Regions from separate parts of the Homo sapiens genome. Here region 2 is linked to region 1. The links come from fine-mapping of genetic effects on gene expression. A gene starts in region 1. The other region holds a variant in brackets. All regions are shown on one strand. Distances are from middle to middle. Region 1 holds the start of EFTUD2 (elongation factor Tu GTP binding domain containing 2). Region 2 overlaps EFTUD2 (elongation factor Tu GTP binding domain containing 2).

Region 1 (5,376 bases):
TCCCCAGCACCGCTGCCCGGTCAGCCGGCCCCACGTGATCAGCCAGTGCCACCAGCAGCTCCCCAAGAAGTCCAAATCCCACATCTGTCTGGAAGAGGCAGCCGAGCCTTGGACCCCCAAGCTGCAGTAGAGCCTGGTAGCGCTCTGGCCCACTTGGCAAGTGTCGTCGCCAATCACGATAGAAGTCAGCAGACGTCTCGGGCTGGAGGGGGGCTTTCTCCTGGACCACAAAGGAAGGAAAGGGAGTCAGGAGCTCTTCCAGCTGTTCTGCAACAGTGACAGGGAGGGGAGCCTGTAGCTCTTCATCTTACTGTCTTCATCTCACTACTGTCTGAGCACTGGGAAAGCTGTGGTCCTTGGCGGCCTCATTTTCAGATGAGGAAACTGGGGATGAAACAGGGAGGGCCCCAAGGAATCCACGCCATGATTTGAGATTCTCATTTATACTGGAATTTTCCTACTCATGAATGGAGACATAGCTCTGGTCTTCAAGAGTAAGTCAGGGTTTACTGTAAGTCGGGTGGATGGGTTGATTGGAAATCTCAGGAAGAGAGAAAGGAACTCAAGGATCTGAATGTTGGGGTCTCTCTCTCAACACTGCCACAGGATCATTACACTAGACACCATACAACCCAGAGGCAGAGCATCCCAATTCTGATCTGAGAATGAAAGTCAAAGGACTAAGGGAAGCCGACCTTCCTAGCCCAACTTTCTGACTCATTCTGCCCACTTCAACTCAGCTTTGCCATCTGCTGTTTGTTTTTCTTTCTGGGATTGGAGGCAGAAACCTATCTCTGTTGGTTTAACATGACAAATAAAGAAGAGGTATGTGTGGTTAAAAAAACAAAACAAAACAAAACAAAATGAAAAAACAGGATTGAAGCTTTAGGGCAGAGAATCCTGCTGGACTAAAGGGGCAGGGCCTCACCTACCGGGGAGATTTCAGTGGCCACATCCTGGAAGGTCCTTCCCTGAATAGTGTGACAGTTCCAGGGCACAGTTCTCTTTCCTCCCATCTTATCCTTCCGCTCCAGTGGCTTCAGATGTGATGCAAGGACAATACCCCTGTAGGCAAAGGACAGAAATTAGGCAATGGACTTAATGCTGTGTCTGTGGGTGTGAGGCAGCTAGACTTTGCATGGTATAGGATAAACCTGTTACGGACCAATATGACCATAATAATAACAACAGCGATAGCTGACTGCTTTCAAGCACCTCACATGTGTCAGACACTTGCTCAGTCTTATGTGCAAGAACTCATTTAATTATAACAGTTACTGTTCTACAGATAAATAATTGAGACTCAGAGAAGTTAAGGAAATTGCATAAGATCAAACAGTAGACGGTGGGGCCAGGACTGAAGCCCAGAATGGTTTGATTTCAGAGTTAACTACTATAATCCACCATAACAGGAGGGCCTGAGAAAAATGGCAGTGAGCCAACCTGAACTCCTCATAGGAAGCCACCCTCTGTTCCACTGCCCGTAACTTGGCAGCATTCTCCCGTTTGTACTTCTCATCAGCAGTGAGTGCAGCCTGCAGCTCTTTCTCCAAAGCCTTGAAGTTGATGATGTCATTCCTTTCCATGGCCTGTGCCTGGGAAGGCAAAGGGAATACATGTCAGTGGACAGTCAATATCAGGGGAAAGAGGGTACCTCTGAATTATTCACCAGAACACAAAATGACCCCAAAGCACTCTGGACATCATGTCACTCAGATTGGGAGGTGTTACAAAAATCTGGTTTTCTATTTTACAAAGACAAGTTGAATTTCACAGTGAGGACTTACACAAGACTTGTCCCTGAAAATAGAATACAGAGTCCTGACTTTCAATTTGGAGTTCTGTCTTAATTTTGCTCTTTGCCTCTAAAAATATTTTTAATTTTGGTGCTTCAGTCGAGGAGGCATTGGGATCTCAGAATTCAGTTTCTTCACTCTTCCCCCATAGGATTGTTCTACAGCAAGTCGTTTCGACAGGGGACCTCACACAAAGGCAGAACTCTTGTTAGTTACCCTTGAGCTCGGGGATAAAGTTTCATTCTTCATTGAATGTCTTTAATGAGGAAGGAGACTTTCACCCAAACCAGATGCAATGACTGAGCAGGAAATCAAGTAGAAGGGGCAAAGGAAGGAGCTCAATGACCCCATCCCCAAATCCCTCTGTCCAGCCCAGGGCTGGAACAGAGGTCCCTAGGTACCTGGGCAATGCCTTTAGTTCTATCACTGTACTTCTGTAGTTTCTGCATATCTGAGGCTGACTGATCATTTCTACAGAGATATTCTTTTCTTTTTTTTTTTTTCTGGCTCTGTTGCCCAGGCTGGAGTGCAGTGGCGCGATCTTGGCTCATTGCAACCTCTGCCTCCGGGGTTCAAGCAATTTTCGATCCTGACCTCAAGTAATCCGCGCGCCTCGGCCTCCCAAAGTGCTGGGATTACAGGCGTGAGCCACTGCAGAGAGATTCTCTACGTGGGTTCTAGTCGTGGCTCTGGCATTTACTTGTGGGACCTCTCTGAACTGCAAACTCCTAGTGAGTTGAGCTAGATTTTGTGGCGGGGTCATCACCAACAGCCCTAGCGCAAGGAAGCAGGAAGTCCCCAACCAATCCCATAGCCACCCTACCCCAACGTAGGGAATCTGAACGCCAAGAAGGGGCTGGGGTGGCCAGTAACCGAAATCAGGTGTCCAGTTCTCAGCCCTCCCCAGGCATTTAATACATAGAACTAACCCTTCCGTCCCCTTACTCAGCCTCCCGGACCTTCACCCCAGCAGTCCCGGCCTTGGTCCCCTTGCTTTCTTTGGGGATCCCCTGATAAACCAGAACAGGAGGGCAACCCCGCGCAGACCACGCCCGCAGCTGTGGTTGCCTAGCAACTGCGCTAACAGCCTGACCACGTGATCTGCCCGAAGGCCCCTCCCCCCATTTTCAGGGTGGTCCCGAGGCGCCTGATCAGATTCGTTCATCCTCAGCTCTCACCCTCTTTGGAGCAGCCCACGTCTTGGGCTACTCGTCTTGGGGACCCGCTACTCCGCCTTGCCAGTCCGCGGCGGGCATACCTCGGAACTGGTCCTCAGGCAGAGGGTTGTCCTCCCGGGCAGAAAGGCGACAGCGGCGTCTGCGGGGTCCTTCCTGGCGGCGGGCGCAGGCGTTTCCTCGGCGTGGGGCGGAAGCACGATCTCCGGCAGCGGCCTGGGAACTCTTAGCTGAGCAGGCGAGAGGTAAGTTGAAGCGGGTCAGCGGCACGGAAGGGTTGCTCCAGGTGGGATAGGAAATTAAAAAGCGTCAGATCTGGAAGGGGCCTTATATGCTATTGGCCCCTTTCGCTTTACGGATCGGTAAATTGAGGCCTGGAGCGGGAAAAAGAATGGAAGACCCTGTCGTCCTCGTGCCTTCCCAAGGCTTCCGAAGCGCGCACACACGCACACACCTCGATTTCGGGGCTGCCTCTATAGCCTCAGTCCGTAAAATCGTATCGCTAGGTAGGAGTGGTGCTCTAACTGTCCAGTCCCCTCGCTCACTTCCTCTTCTATCCGTGCCGCTTTCAGCCGTTCTTTGCCAAGTTCCCTCCGAAGTCCTCTGAGCTCCTGCATTGTAGCGGGAAGCGGCAGTGAGGTTTGTTACCATGAGTCGCTAGTTTTGTGTAACTGTGGGCAAATCAGCTATATTCTGTGTACCTTGTTAGAGTCATTCATTAGTTCAGTAAATACTTATTGAGGGCTTAGTCTATGCTAGGCACAGTACTAAGTGAACAAAGTCTTTGCTTCAATTGTAGTTGGGGAAATGAACAGTAAACAACTAGATACAAGTCAGCTAGTGATAAATGTATAACATTTGTGAATAGCAATAAAACAGTGAAAGTGGGAAGTTGGAGAGTATGTATGGGGGACTTTTTAGAGTGACAGAGAAGATGACATTTTAGTGGAGACTTGATTGAAATAAAGGAACAAGGTGAAAAATATCAAAGGGGAGAGCGTTTTGGACAAAGAGAAAGGCAAGTGCAGTGGCCCTGAGGCAGAAATGAGCTTGGCTTGTTCCATGAACAGCTTTCTATAACAGTTTCTTCAATCGGCCGGGCGCGGTGGCTCACGCCTGTAATCCCAGCACTTTGGGAGAAAGACGCGGGCGGATCACCTGAGGTCAGGAGTTCGAGACCAGCCTGGCCAACATGGTGAAAACCCATCTCTACTAAGAATACAAAAAAATTAGCCAGGCGTAGTGGTGCACTCCTGTAGTCCCAACTACTCGGGAGGCTGAGGCAGGAGAATCGCTTGAAACCAGGAGGCGGAGGTTGCAGTGAACTGAGATCGTGCCGTTGTACTCCAGCCTGGGCAACAAGAGCAAAACTCTGTCTCAAAAAATATATATAAAATAAATAAATAATTTCTTCAATCCCTTGACTGGGGTCTTGGGAGAATGAGATAAGCATAAATGCGATAGTAGCTTTTTAGAAGTAAAAAGAATATGCATGTGAAAGTTTCCATAATAATTTACATTTAATTATTGGTCCTTGGAGCTCCAATTCTCTCTCTACATTCAGCACCCAGCAGGTGGCATTGAGGGAGTTGGAGGTATCAGTCTAATCCAAGAAATATCAGCATCTTAAAATTAAACATCCCATTCAGTTAACATTTATCCAGTTCCTACTTATGCAAGGTGCTGTCTTGGCTATTGGCTGTGTTAGCATTGGTACTTTTTTCTCAATTATTTAAAAATGTAAAATGTGGCCGGGTGCGGTGGCTCACACCTGTAATCTCAGCACTTTGGGAGGCCGAGGTGGGCTAATCACCTGAGGTCAAGAGTTCGAGACTGCCTGGCCAACATGGTTGAAACCCCGTCTCTACTAAAAATACAAAAATTAGCCAAGTGTGATGGCGGGTGCCTGTAATCCCAGCTACTTGGGAGGTTGAGGCAGGAGAATCGCTTGAACCTGTGAGGCGGAGGTTGCAGTGAGTCGAGATCGTGCCACTGCACTCCAGCCTAGGCAACAGAGCGGGACTCCGTCTCAAAAAAATAAAAAAATAAAAATGTAAAATGCATTCTTAGCTGGAGGACCATGCAAAAACAGTTGGAGGGGCCAGATTTGGCCACAGGTCAGAGTTTGTCAACTCTTGCTCTAAAGTATTAGGAGGTGAAGAGGCATTGTGTCAGCAGCATACTGTCAAATATTTGGGGAAAAGAAAGTTATTTGTACTGTTCTTGCCACTTTTTGGTATTATTTTAAAATTAAATTTAGTATCATAAAAGAAGTGAAGAGAAGAAGCAGGTGCATGGAACACAGGGTTCTCATGATCAAGGATGGCAAAAAATAATGCTAGCTAACGTTTATTGAGCCTAGGACTCTGGTAAATTCTTTTTTTTTTTTTTTTTTTTTGAGACGG
Region 2 (5,353 bases), 40 kb after region 1:
AGTTGCAAGGCTCTGTGCAAGAGGGGATAAAGTGGCTCTCCCTCCGCAGGGCTATTGACTTCAAGTTCTTCCTGTCCCAGGTTTGCTGGGGCCAAAGGCAGCTACTGTTGGAACAGTGCCAGAAGCTTCGCCTTTGCACTTTGGGTGGCTCGTGTGAACTTTTTTTTTTAGCCCTATTTGTTTGTTTTGAGACAGGGTCTCACTCTGTCTCCTAGGCCAGAGTGCAGTGGCACAATCTCAGCTCACTGCGACCTCCGCCTCCTGGGCTCAAGCAGTCCTTCCACCTCAGCCTCCTGAGTAGCTGGAACTACAAGCACACACCACTATGTCTGGCTAATTTTTAAATTTTTTGTAGAGACAATGTCTCACTATATTGCCCAGGCTGGTCTCCAACTCCTGGGCTCAAGTGATCCTCCCACCTCAGCCTCTCAAAAGTGTTGGATTACAGGTGTGAGCCACCACACACCATCTTAAAGCCCTTTTGAAAGCATGAAGCTTGTATGAACTTTTGTAGGAGGATTTCCATTGTTACTCATCTTAATCCTCTTTTCATTTCCTCTCCTGTGTTCCTTAAGTCATAATCTTTGTGTTTCTTCCCAAAAGAAATTGTTCCCCAACTCCACTGTCTACTCTTTGACCAAGAGAGAAGGCTTCGCTGGATCCCTTGTAGCATCCCAATCTGCAGTCAAACTTAGCTTGGGCCTCTGGGCTACTTGTCAGTTTATGAATTTGGTTTCCCAGTTGACAAGTTAAACCAAAGCATTCGTGTTCCCTAAGGTGGCTACCCTGCCTCAATGGTGGTCCCTTTTGTTAAATCCACCCTAAATGCCAAAAGGTGGAATATTGAAGAGCTGGGAAAGTGGAAGTTTTCTGTGATGCTTTTTTTTTTGAGATGGAGTCTCACTCTGTCGCCCAACCTGGAGTGCAGTGCCTGTGATCTCGGCTTACTGCAAGCTCCACCTCCTGGGTTCATGCCATTCTGCTGCCTCAGCCTCCCAAGTAGCTGGGACTACAGGCGCCCGCCACCATGCCCAGCTAATTTTTTTGTATTTTTAGTAGAGACAGGTTTCACCGTATTAGCCAGAATGGTCTCGATCTCCTGACCTCATGATCCACCTGCCTCAGCCTCCCAAAGTGCTGGGATTATAGGTGTGAGCCACCGCTCCCAGCCTTTTTTTTTTTTTTTTTTTCTCTCTGTCAGCCAGGCTGGAGTGCAATGGCGTGATTGCGGCTCACTGCAACCTCTGCCTCCCGGGTTCAAGCGATTCTCCTGCCTCAGCCTCCCAAGTAGCCAGGGTTATAGGTGTGCACCACCATGTCTGGCTAATTTTTTGTATTTTTAGTAGAGATAGTTTTCACCATGTTGGCCAGGCTGGTCTCAAACTCCTGACCTCAGGTGATCCAGCCACCCACCTCAGCCTCCCAAAGCACTGGGATTATAAGCGTGAGCCGCCACACCCGGCCTTCTTTGATGCTTTTGCTAGCCCCTTACAGTCGACACCTTGGGCAGCTTTTTACCATGAGCCTGCAATTGGAATAAGATTTTCCTCTTATGTCCTCACAGAAATACCTTGTACTTTTCTTTCATAATGCCCATCAGTTTGTAACCACATACATGTGTGGATAATGATTGTTTACTGTATCTCTCCCCTGCTAGAATGTATCTGTTTTGCTCACCCCTGCTCTTGGCACGCAGCAAGTACTCAGTAAATTTTTGTGGAATAGGCTGGATGTGGTGGCTCACACCTGTAATCCTAGCACTTTGGAAGGCTGAGGCAGGAGGATTGCTTGAGCTCAGGAGTTCAAGACCAGCCTAGACAACATGAAAAAACCCCGTCTCTACAAAAATACAAAAATTAGTTGGGCATGTTAGTGTGTGCCTGTAGTCCCAGCTACTTGGGGGGCTGACGCAGAAGGATCACTGGAACCTTGGAAGTTCGAGGCTGCAGTGAGCCAAGATTGTGCCACTGCACTCCAGCCTGGTAACAAAGTGAGATCCTGTCTCAAAAAAAAAAAAAAAAAAAAAATTAGGGAATGCTCTGCCTAAGTTTCACTGCTGCTTATTGGACATTGCTTCAGGTACCACATCGAGGTGAACCGTGTTCCTGCTGGCAACTGGGTTCTGATTGAAGGTGTTGATCAACCAATTGTGAAGACAGCAACCATAACCGAACCCCGAGGCAATGAGGAGGTAGAGTTTCTGAAGAGACCAACTGGGTTGGCTTAAGCTAGATGGTCCCAGGGACACACATGAGCACAAACGGGACTAATCCACAGTCATTGCCATGTCCTGGTTTCAGGCTTAGCCTTCTAGATATGACCCTGCTGGATTCTCCCTGTACTCAGTTCAGATGCGAGGAATTAGGACGGGTGCCTTTTATTATTTTCCTCCTCTCTTTGTTCTGCCAGAATACCTGGGAAGAAATGGCCCTTCAGGTTACCCCCACTCAGCACCAGGCTCCTGGTTGGGGAATACATAGTCTGATCCTAAGCAAGTCCTCTTCTCTTCTCATACCTCTGCACTTTCTGTGCCTGCTCATGCCAGTTGCCCTCAGTCCTTTGTGCTTTGGATCTCAGGCTCAGATTTTCCGACCCTTGAAGTTCAATACCACATCTGTTATCAAGATTGCTGTGGAGCCAGTCAACCCCTCAGAGCTGCCCAAGATGCTTGATGGCCTGCGCAAGGTCAACAAGAGCTATCCATCCCTCACCACCAAGGTATGCCCATGGCCTGCAGCAGCCGCCAAGCCCCACTATCCCCAGCTGAATGGGCAGAGCTGCACACCGCTTCCCATCCATCAGGTGTTCATGATCTGCTGCTTACAGGAAGCTGTGTCAGGAGCAAGCCCAGCCTATGGCTGTCATGTCAAGGCAGGACAAGACAC[G/A]TGTGTGTGTGTATGTGTGTGTGTTAAAACAAGACCTGTGTAGGAGGGGGCAGTGATGGGGGGTATAGGACAAGGTTGTGTGTGTGTGTGTGTGTGCGTATTTGTGTTCCGCAGATGTCTTTATCTAGACAAAAATACATTTCTTAATGAGTATACTTTGAATTGATTTTCTCGAGAAGAGAAGGAAAAGTGAGTTGTTACTCTGATCCTTGTACACTATGAGCCTGCCAGTGTACCTTTCCAGGTAGCAGGCCAGGAGGGCTAAAGGGCTAGCTTATGTCCATGGGTATAGGGTAGAGTTTGACCTAAATCATTAAGATGGGAATTAAATCATTGACTTCACACCTAGTATCACCATGCTGAGTGGTCCTGGTGTCTTGAGGACCCACTCATAGGCAGATGCTCCTCACTGAACCTTCTTGAAGAGGCTGGAACAGATGCTAAGTAGTAGCTGTTTCTGATAGGCAACTTCTTGTCTGCTCTGGCCTTGATTTTGTTTGTGTGTGCCTTTGCTGGCATAAGAGAATCCAGGCTGTGACTGCCTGTTGTGTTTCAGGTGGAGGAGTCTGGCGAGCATGTGATCCTGGGCACTGGGGAGCTCTACCTGGACTGTGTGATGCATGATTTGCGGAAGATGTACTCAGAGATAGACATCAAGGTACAGCAGTATCTGCCGGGAGCTGGGTTCACGGTCCAGACTTTTCACAAGTGACCAAATCCTTGAATTCCTGGGAAGCTCCAAGGGAAGAGAGAGTACATGTGTTTGTGAAAACCATGATCTGTTGCTCCTTATATGGGAAGGTTTTTGAGAACTGGTTTGCCCCCTTCTGCTGTGTCATACGTTTAAAATCAAGGCTCAGCCGTGCTTGGTGGCTCACTCCCAGCACTTTGGGAGGCCGAGGTGGGAGGATTGCTTGTAGCCAGGAATTCAAGACCAACCTGAGCAACAAAGTGAGACACTGCCTCTACAAAAATTAAAATAAAAAAAATAGCCAGGCCGGGCATGGTGGTCCGTTGCTGTAATTGCAGCACTTTGGGAGACTGAGGTGAGAGGATTGCTTGAGCCCAGTTTGAGACCAATCTGGGCAACATAGTGAAACCTCGTCTCTACAAACCAGCCCAGTGCAGTGGCATGTACCTGTAGTCCAGCTACTGGGGGGCTTAGGTGGGAGGATCACCTGAACCTAGACTGTCAAGGCTGCAATGAACTGTGATTGTGCCATTGCTCTCCAACCTGAGCCTAGGAGGTCATGGCTGCAATGAGCAATCATTGTGCCATTGCTCTCCTTTTTGAGATGGAGTCATACCCTGTCTCAAAAAACTAAAAAATAAAAATTAGTCAGGTGTGGTGGCTTGCACCTATAGTCCCAGCTACTCCGCAGGCTGAAGCAGGAGGATTGCTTGAGCCCAGCAGTTCGAGGCTGCAGTGAGCTACGATCATGCCACTGCACCCTAGCATGGGTGACAGAGCAAGACCCTGTCTCAAAAAATAAATGCATTGAAAAATAATAAAACAGGCCGAGCACGGTGGCTCACGCCTGTAACCCCAACACTTTGAAAGTCCAAGGCGGTTGGATTGCTTGAGGTCAGGAGTTCAAGACCAGCCTGACCAACATGGTGAAACTCTGTCTCTACTAAAAATACAAAAATTAGCCAGACATGGTGGCGGGCACCTGTAATCCCAGCTACTCAGGAGGCTGAGACAGGATAATTGTTTGAAACCGGGTGGCAGAGGTTGCAGTGAGCCAAGATCGCACCATTGCACTCCAGCCTGGGTGATAGGGCGAGACTCTGTCTCAAAAAAAAAAAAAAAAAAAGGAAAAAGAAAATAAAGGCTCCCAAGCCAAAGTTATTCTTGGTCCTTTGTTAGGGAAATAATTGCACAATTAAACAATTAACCCATGGGTGGTGATTAGGTCTCAGAGTGGGTGGTTTCAAGGAGAGGGTGGGGACTGTCTCTCCCAGATTCTTTGTCAAGCCTTGATGTAGCCCCTCAAACCATGTGTTGCTTGGCCTCCTTGTCCTAGTTGAGTCGTATTTTCTCCAAGGCCCTGTGGAGGACCCTCAATACCCCTCTTAGACTCCTCTACTGATGTATCTAGGAAGGAGGAAGGATTGGTGTCATAGAAAACACTGGGTTTCCTGGGCAGCAGACCATGTTGGGGCTTCAGGGCAGAGCTTCACTCAGATGCTGTGGGTTGAGAATGACATGGGTGCACGCCAGTGGGTCTCAGCACCAGCTCTGTCAGACCCATGGGGGTTGTTCAGTGAATGGTGGTAGATGGCTGAATGGATGCTGAGAGCTACCTTTGAAGACTAGAATTAAGGCCCTAGTTTGATACCCCACTTACTCTTGGCTCAGGAATCTAATTTCTTTACTACAGTAAGTTTTCTTGGGCTTTTTGGTGATGATTTGGACAGCTCTTTTAACCTGCTGTTGTACTTATCACTTGTGCTGATTAAGGCAG

The links. PIP is the estimated chance that this variant, and not a neighbour inherited with it, causes the effect. A credible set is the group of variants that fine-mapping cannot tell apart.
Region 2: its variant is the best candidate, but not a certain one, in a credible set for the expression of EFTUD2 in whole blood (INTERVAL, PIP 0.66).

Annotation. Positions count from the first base shown.
Region 1 is chr17:44,897,209-44,902,584 of GRCh38, reverse strand. EFTUD2 (elongation factor Tu GTP binding domain containing 2) reads left to right here and starts at 3,140. Exons shown (of 28, transcript NM_004247.4): 1 at 3,140-3,216. DNAAF19 (dynein axonemal assembly factor 19) reads right to left here and starts at 2,856. Exons shown (of 4, transcript NM_213607.3): 1 at 2,726-2,856; 2 at 1,444-1,595; 3 at 933-1,065; 4 at 1-220. The coding sequence starts at 1,586.
Region 2 is chr17:44,857,270-44,862,622 of GRCh38, reverse strand. It overlaps EFTUD2 (elongation factor Tu GTP binding domain containing 2), which reads left to right. Exons shown (of 28, transcript NM_004247.4): 17 at 2,080-2,191; 18 at 2,578-2,718; 19 at 3,442-3,543. Among named protein-coding and RNA genes, the nearest start is that of HIGD1B, 12 kb to the right of the region's middle. The variant G/A (reference allele first, on the strand shown) is at 2,886.